Regions from separate parts of the Homo sapiens genome. Here region 1 is linked to region 2. Evidence: fine-mapped expression QTL. A gene starts in region 2. The other region holds a variant in brackets. All regions are shown on one strand. Distances are from middle to middle.

Region 1 (4,212 bases), 92 kb before region 2:
AATCCAGCAACATATAAAAAGGATTGTACACTGACAAAGTGGGATTTATCGCAGGAATGGAAAGTTGGTTTAATATCCAAAAATCTGTCAATGTAATACACCCTATCAATAGAATAAAGGACAAAGTCCACATAATGATTTACAGATGCAGAAAAAGCATTGGACAAAATCCAGCACCTTTTCAAGATAGAAAATAAGAATGGAAGGGGGCTGCTTCAACCTGATAAACAGCATCGATGAAAAACCACAGCATTACCCGCTAAGGTTGGGAACAAAACAAGAATGCTCTTGCCACGTCTATTCCAACATTGTACTGGAAGTTACGAGCCAGGACAATTAAGCAAGAAAAGAAATAAGGCATCCAGATCGGAAAGGAAGAATCAAAACTCTCTAGTCACGGATGACATGATTTATACCTAGAAAATCTTAAGGAATTTACACATTTAAAAAATCACTTATCAGAACTTATAAATGAGGTCAGCAAGGTTGCAGAATATATGTTCAACATAGGAAAGCCAGTGTTTCTGTACACTAGCAGTCTGAACAACCTGAAAATGAAATTAAGAAAATAATTCCATTTACAATTGCATCAAAAAGAGTGAAATATGTAGGAATAAATTTAACAAAAGAAGGGCTATACTTGTTCACCGAAAACTACAAATAGCTTGTTGAAAGGCATTGCAAACCTAAATATATAAATGTCCCAGGTTCATGGATTGGAAGATAACTTTCCCAAACTGATTGATATAGTTAGTTAGGCTTTGTGCCTCCACCCAGATCTCATCTTGAATTGTAATCCCCCTAATCCCCACATGTCAAGGGACAGACAAGGTGGAGGTAATTGAATCATGGGAGCAGTTCCCCCCATGCTATTCTTGTGATAGTGAGTTCTCACAAGATCTGATGGTTTTATAAGGGGCTCTTCCCACTTCACTTGGCACTTCTTGCCACCTTGTGAAAAAGGTTCCTGCTTCGTCTTCGCCTTCCACCATGATTGTAAGTTTCCTGAGGTCTCCCCAGCCACACTGAACTGTGAGTCAATTAAACTTCTTTCCTTTTTAAAGCACCCGGGCTCAGGCAGTTCTTTATAGCAATATGAAAATGGACTAATATACTGCTCTGCAGTGTTTAGGAGAATGTGGAGAAACTGGAACCCCCATACATTGCTAGTGGGATTGTAAACAGGCACAGCCTTTATGGAAAACAGCTTGGCAGTTCCTCAAAATGTTGAACATAGGAGTTGACCTAGCAATTCTCCTCCTAGGTCTATACTCAAGAGAATTAAAAAATCTGCACACATAAACCTAATGTGTTCATAGCATTGTTCATAAGAGCCAAAAAGTGGACACAAGCCAGATGTTCATCAGCTGTAAGCAAAACTGGTGAATCCACACAATATTACTTGGCAATAAAAAGGCATGAAGTGCTGACACACTACAACCTGGATGAACCTCGGCAATATGCTAGGTGGAAGAAGGCAGACACAAAAGGCCACACGTGGTGTGATTCCATTTACATGAAACGTCCTGAACAGGTAGATCCATAGAGAGATTAGCAGGAAACCATTCACAGTGGTTTCAGGAGCTTGAGGGGGGAGGAGGGGGATGGGTGAAACAAGGAGTGGCTGAAAATGAGTATAGGGTTTCTTTTGAAGGTGATTCTAATGTTCTGGAATTAGATAATCGTGATGGTTGTACAAGTGTACTAACAACTGAATTGCATACTTTAAAATGGTAAATGTTATGGCATGTGAATTACATCTCAGCACAAATATCATGAGGAATCTCATGCATCCTCTAAAATTACACTTAAAAAGCAAAAAGCACGAGCAAGGGAAAACAAGCAAATTGCCTACTGCAAAATTAAAAGACAGATATTGTTAGGCTGGATTATAAAGCCATACACAACTATATACTATTGCTTATGAGAAATATAAAGACAAAAGTGAAAAGATGGAGAAAAATACACCATGGTAACGCAC[A/C]CATCAAAATAAACCTGAAGCAGCTCTATTAATATTAGACAAAGGAGATCTCAGAGCAAAGAATATTGCAAGGGACAAAGAGAGTCATTTGATAATGATAAAGGGGTAATTCATTAAAAGGATATAACAATACTAAATACCTATGCACCTAATAACAGCTTCAAAATACAGGAAATATAGGAAGGAAAAATGGATAAAACTGCAAGGGGAAATAGACAAATCCACAGTGGCAATTGGGGCTTTCAGTAACCCTCTCAGGAACAAGGCACAGGTGTCCTCTCCCTTCTGTTCAATATTACACTGTGGATTCTGGCCAGTGCAACAAGGCAAGAGAAAGAAAAGGCCTCCAGGGTGGAAAGGAAGAAGGCTTTCTTCACAGATTATATGTTTCTCTATGTAGAAAATCCTAAGGAGTCTACCACAAAGCTACTGGAACTAATAATTGAGTTTCGGGAAGGTAGCATTCTACAAAGTCAATATAGAAGAGTCAGTTGTATTCCTATATGCCAGGAATGAACACTTGGAATGGGAAATTTGGAAAACACCACCATATACAGTACCATCAAATACATGAAATACTTGGGGGTATATTTGACAAAAGATGAGCAAGCTCTGTAATTGAAAGCTACAAAACGTTGCTGTGAGAATTAAAGATGTAAATAAATGAGAGATACACTGAGCAGATTGGAAGAGTCGATATTGTTAAGACATCAGTTCTCCCCAGGTTGATGTACAGACTCAACACAATTCCAACCAAAATATCAGGAAGCCTTTTTTGGGAGAGTGGGGATAGGGCTAAACATTGACAAGCTAGTTCTAGAAGTTATATGAAAATACAAAGGATCTAGCATAGCCAAAACAACTTTGGAAAAGTGCACCAAGCTACTACTCATACCAAGAAATATTATAAAGCTACAGTAGCAAAGGCAGTGTGGTATAGTCATAAATATAGACCTGTTGTAGATCCAGGGAAAACAGTAGAAAGTTCAGAAAGACTACACATTTATGGTCAATGGATTTCCAACAAAGGCACTTAAGCAGTTTTATGGGGAAAGCATAATGATTTTTGGTTGTGTGTGTGTGTGTGTGTGTGTGTGTGTGTGTGTGTGTGTTTTTGAGATAGTCCAGCTCTGTCACCCACACTGGAGTGCAGTGGCCACAGTTATAGCTTACAGCAGCCTCGACCTCCTGAGATCAAGGAATCCTTCCACCTTAGCCTCCTTAGTAGCTGGAACCACAGGCATGTGCTGCTGCATGCATCTAATTTTTTATTTTTTTATTTTTAGTTTTTAAATTTATTTATTTTGAGACAGAGTCTCACTCTGTCACCCAGGCTGGAGTGCAGTGGCACGATCTCAGCTCACTGCAAGCTCCACCTCCCGGGTTCACACCATTCTCCTGCCCCAGCCTCCCGAGTAGCTGGGACTACAGGCAGCCGCCACCACGCCCGGCTAATTTTTTGTATTTTTAGTAGAGACGGGGTTTCACCGTGTTAGCCAGGACGGTCTCGATCTCCTGACCTCGTGATCCACCCGCCTCGGCCTCCCAAAGTGCTGGGATTACAGGCGTGAGCCACCGCGCCCGGCCTAATTTTTTGCTTTTTGTAGAGATGGGGTCTTGCTGTGTTGCCCAGGCTGGTCTCTAACTCCTGCTCAAGAACTCCTCCTGTCCCGGTCTCCCAGTGTTGGGATTACAGGCAGGAGCCACCACACTGGCCCAATAAAGAAGCTTTATGTGGTAGGTAGAATAACTGTCCTCAAAGATTGCCAGGTCCAAATCTCTGGACCTTGTGAATATGTCACATTACATGACAATAGGGACTTTGCAGAAGTAAGTGCAGGATCTTGGATGGGGGATCCTGGATAATCTAGGTGGACACAATCTAATCTCATGAGCCCTTAAAAGTCAAGACTATTCTTTGGCTATGGTTGGTCAGAGAATGATGTGATGGAAGGAAGGACAGGCATGAGAGGGACTCAAGTCCCTCATTTCTGGGGTTGAAAAAGGCATGAGCCAAGATATGGGGGAAGCCTCTGTAGGCTGAGAAGGACCTCTGACTGACAGAAGGGAAACAGAGACCTCAGTGCTACAACTGCATGAAACAATTCTGCCAGTAGCCCATGTGGGCAAGGAGACGGATTCTCCCCTGGAGCTTCTGGAAAGGAAGGCAGCCCTGCTGACACCCCGATTTCAGCCAGGAGAGCCCTTGTATCAAATTTCTGACCTATGGA
Region 2 (4,521 bases):
TCCTGCTTCAGCCTCCCAAGTAGCTGGGACTACAGGTGTGTACCACCATGCCCAGTTAATTTTTCCATTTTTAGTAGGGATGGGGTTTCACCATGTTGGCCAGGCTGGTCTTGAATTCCTGGCCTCAAGAGATCCATCCGCCTCAGCCTCCCAAAGTGCCGGGACCACAGGCGTGAGCCACCATGCCTGGCCCTCTCTGCTTTTCATAATCATTTTTGCATCCTTTGTTACAGGAAATGAGTTCCGAAAAACTCAGGGCAACCCAAAGTTGGACATCCTTTGCATCCCTGACTAATCACTGACACTGTAGAATGGGGTAGGAAGAAAATGAGTCTCTCTTCAACTGAATTGAGTTTGTTCTGGTGCAAGATAATGTCATCATACAATATACTTGACCAAGTCCTAATTCTCTTTATTTATTTATTTTTAATTTAATTTTATTTATCTATTTTTTGAGATGGAGTCTCGCTCTGTCGCCAGGCTGAGTGCAGTGGCACAATCTCGGCTCACTGCAACCTCCATCTCCCAGGTTCAAGCCATTCTCCTGCCTCAGCCTCCCGAGTAGCTGGGACTACAGGCGTGAACCACCATGCCTGGCAAATTTTTGTATTTTTAGTAGAGACAGGGTTTCACCATGTTGGCCAGGATAGTCTCGATCTTTTGACCTCGTGATCTGCCTGCCTCGGCCTCCCAAAGTGCTGGAATTACAGGCGTGAGTCACCGTGCCCGGCCTATTTATTTATTTTTGAGATAGAGTTTCACTGGTCACCCAGGCTGGAGTGCAATGGTGTGATCTTGGCTCACTGCAACCTCTGTCTCCCGAGTTCAAGCCACTGTCCTGCCTCAGCCTCCCGAGTAGCTGGGACTACATGTGCGCACCACCACGCCCGGCTAATTTTTATATTTTTAGTAGAGATGGGGTTTTACCATGTTGGCCAGGCTTGTCTCAAACTCCTAACCTCATGTGATCCACCTGCCTTGGCCTCCCAAAGTGTTGGGATTACAGGCGTGAGCCACAGTGCCCGTACTCTGATTCTCTTTAATTCCTAGTAAATATAAGCCCGGAATAACTGCCCATAGGGAATTTTACCATGTGGCTTTCATTATTCCCTTCCTTCTCTCCCTCAGAAGCCGATCCATCTTCCGGATGGGACCTGGTTTTAGAGAAACAATTGAACAGTTTCAAGCAACAGCTTTCTTTTTCTTGGTCCTTATCCCCTCCTGAATTCTGCACATCTGTTTATTTACTTGTTACTTCTCTGCCACCCCCAGGCTGTTGTCACGTCTTTGTCCTGTTTGTCAGGAACCATAGCACTATATCATGCCTGTCAGGTGGCGGAGATGCCACAAAAGCAAAGCTCCATGAATGAATGAAAAATATAATTATTAAAACATCGAAGGAACAGCAGGATTAGATCACCCCAGAAAAGTCACCTCAAATATAACTTGTGTCTGGGACAAAACTGGGGAAAAGAAATACAACGTAGAGAAAGTAGCGCGATCAGAGTAAGTGTTCTGGGGACTCTGAGTTTCTCCACGATTTACGTAGCACAGGAATATATATATATATATATATATATGTATATCTTTTTTAAAAAATTAAAGATTCAAGCTATTTTTATCTGTCAAAGGAATATAGATATGTTCAAAGAGACAGACAGTGACAGTTCCCTGTGATCTTCCCTTTCCTTCCCAAGATAATCATTGATAACATTTAGGACCACATTCTTTCAACATTTTTCTATGTTTTAAACACACACACACACCCTGAATTAGAGATCATAGTATACCTACCCTTTTACATTTATGCCTATCGTTTTATTAATAATACCTTTAGTCTTTCCATGTCAATACATACAGACCCACCTTTAAAAAAATGAAACAATACCGATGTGTCTAAGGTAAAAAGGCCAAACTCTTTCCAATCGTTTCTATCCTTTTAAACAGAGCCTAAGCGAGCAGAGGCCCGGTGGCAGGGATCTTCACTCAGCCGCCCTCCCTGTGCGCGCTCAGTGCTTCCACCCAGGCCCCAGGACGGTGACCGCGGACTATCGCGGGCCGCCTAACCGCAGGGACCCCTCCCATCGCGGGTCACCCCCAAGCCTGCGAGAGGGGATCTGTCCTTGCAGGAGGGAGGCGCGGGGCCGGGCTGGTCTCCGGCCACAGCGAGTGGCCCCGGAGCAAGGTCAGGGGCGGTATCCAACAGCCCCGCGCCCTGCAGAGCCCTCTACTCTTAGGAGGACTGCGCGCAGGGACCGCCACGCAGAGTGGTTGCCATGGTGACTGCAGAGTGAGCGGTCCCGGGTTTTAGAGGGAGTCGCGCGCTTGGAGTAGGGGAAAGAGGGAGGCCGAGAGAGGACAAAGGGACAGGAGGGGAGAAGTGAGAAGGGTTGGCGGGGGGGTGAGGGGCTGAACGCAGTGGACGGGAAAGGCCAGCAAAATGGCGAGAGAAGGGACACAGGCGAGAGGAAGGGGGAGTGGAGGCGAAGGGGCGAGGCAGGAGCCGACGCGGGGGCCACCTGGAGCGGTGAACGGAGAGCGCGGCCTGGCGACTCCAAGACCCGCTGCCCCTCGGCCCGGCTTACCGGCCCGCCGCGCCGCCCGGTTCCGCCATTTCCCGTTGCTAGGCGACGCTGTCAACATCCGGCCGGGCCGGGACCACGCGCGCTGCGAGGGCGGGGGCCGCCGGGGGCGGCGCGGCCTTTGTGCCATCTCCACGCACGCAGAGGCGCGCGCCGTCTCGACGTGTCGTCCCTTAGACTGTAATGATTAGAGCACGACCATGCTTTTCCTTTATCGCTCTCTGCGCCCGGGTCCCGCCTCGGCTGCGCTCAATTTCTGTAAAGCGACAGCGGCGTCAGCGTGTGCCCAGCGGGCGGCTCGAGGTCCCGAAGGGACCTGCCGGGCACCTGGGGACCCCGGACTGCTAAGCGCCCGGGAATGGCAGGCGGGCTGGGGGCACCGGGGGCCGGGGACCCCGCGCATGGCGAGCGCTTTTCCATCTCCTGCCCTAGGGGGCTCCGGTGCCCTTCTCCAGGGGTCCTACGGAGACTCCTTGCATGGACGCCCGGGGGGTCTTCCGGAGCGTATCTTCCCTTCCTAGTCCGAAATAGGAGAAATCTCCCTGCAGAGGGCGGCAGCGGAGGGCCAGCGCGCACGCGGAGCGTCCGAGGAGCCCTGCCTTTCCTTTGGGGACGCCAGGCTCGGGACGGGGCACAGTCCCCGAGGCCGGGACGCGGCGAGGCCTGAGGGAGGGCCAGCAGGGAACTAGAGGCTTGGGCCCAGGGCTGGGCCAGAAGGTGGGCGGGGAGACCGGCGGGGGCAGGCAGGGGCCGGGCCGGGGGCGGGCCCGGGGGCGGGCCGGGGGCCGGGCCTCCCCGCGCGTCCCCGCCCCGCCGCGCCTCACTGGCGGCGGCAGCGGCGGAGGCGACGGTGGCGGCTCTCGGAGCCGGCGCGAATCCGGCCCCCGCAGCGGGACCCGGGTGGGTATCGGGGCCCGGACGGGGCCGCGGGGGCGGGGTCCGAGGGGTCCACCGCGCAGCGAGCAGCGCCCCCTCGGCGGAGCTGGGGCGGGGGCGCGCGGGGCGCGTGGGGCGCGTGGGCCTGCAGCCGCGGGACCGGGGAGGGGCCGGGGTCCGGCCGCCGTCCTCGGGGTGCGGGGCGCCAGCAGGAGCGGGAGCGTTGTGGGAGGACCTGGATCACGGAGGGGCACCTGGGGACTTTTCCCCGCGGCGAGTGAGGGCGCCCGGGCCCGGAATGGGCCTAATTCGGGGAGACTGGTCCCCGCCTGTCTGGAGCGGTGGACCGGGGAACTTGCGGTCTTTGTCTGGCTGAATCGGCGGAGCAGACGGATGAGAACTTGTGGGGTGCCGGCGCGCGCCCACACAGCCTCCAAAGTGTGCGTCCCCCCAGCAGCGCGCGCTCAGCTTTCCCGGCCTGTCGGGCTTGGTGGTCTGGGCTGTTTAAGATCCGCGTGTCGGGATACTCACTTCCGTTCCGCCTGGGCTCCCTTGTTCTTTCCTTTGGGAAAAAAAAAAAAAGAAAAAGAAAGAAAGAACGAAAGGAAGGAAAGAAAAAAAGGAAAGGCAACTGAAGATTGCTAAACATAACCTAGGGGATCCTGCCGGAAGCCGCTGAATCCTGAAATCCTGTGATTCCCACACTCGGAAGCTGGTGTCGTATATTGGCCACAAAGTAGTTCAGATTTGATTCAGAAATAGGAAATGAATAGAAAAGACATAACAAAAGTTAGTCTCGCCTTATGGTAAAGTTTGTTTTACTGTCTGGGTCAAGTTCAAATGAGAAGCTGGGCTGATTGGCCAGCCTCTGCGACTTGATCCTGAAGATCTGCTTTCTTTTCTACCAGAAGGCTCCTAATTCTTTTATCTGGAATAAAAAGGGAACTCCGTCTTAAAGATGCTCACGTGAGGCGGCATATTGCCAGAGGGTGGGCGCAAAGACTGGGGGCTGGAGATTCCATTCCAAATCTGTTACTGATTGATCAGAACACTTTTTCAAATC

Evidence for each region. PIP is the estimated chance that this variant, and not a neighbour inherited with it, causes the effect.
Region 1: its variant is the best candidate, but not a certain one, in a credible set for the expression of CCDC40 in gastroesophageal junction (GTEx, PIP 0.54).

What each region holds. Positions count from the first base shown.
Region 1 is chr17:80,126,525-80,130,736 of GRCh38, reverse strand. No RefSeq gene overlaps it. Among named protein-coding and RNA genes, the nearest start is that of EIF4A3, 18 kb to the left of the region's middle. The variant A/C (reference allele first, on the strand shown) is at 1,982.
Region 2 is chr17:80,034,756-80,039,276 of GRCh38, reverse strand. CCDC40 (coiled-coil domain 40 molecular ruler complex subunit) reads right to left here and starts at 2,635. Exons shown (of 20, transcript NM_017950.4): 1 at 2,586-2,635; 2 at 1,091-1,154. The coding sequence starts at 2,614. TBC1D16 (TBC1 domain family member 16) reads left to right here and starts at 3,405. Exons shown (of 12, transcript NM_019020.4): 1 at 3,405-3,482. RefSeq lists enhancers at 1,833-2,127, 3,027-3,146 and a silencer at 3,337-3,406.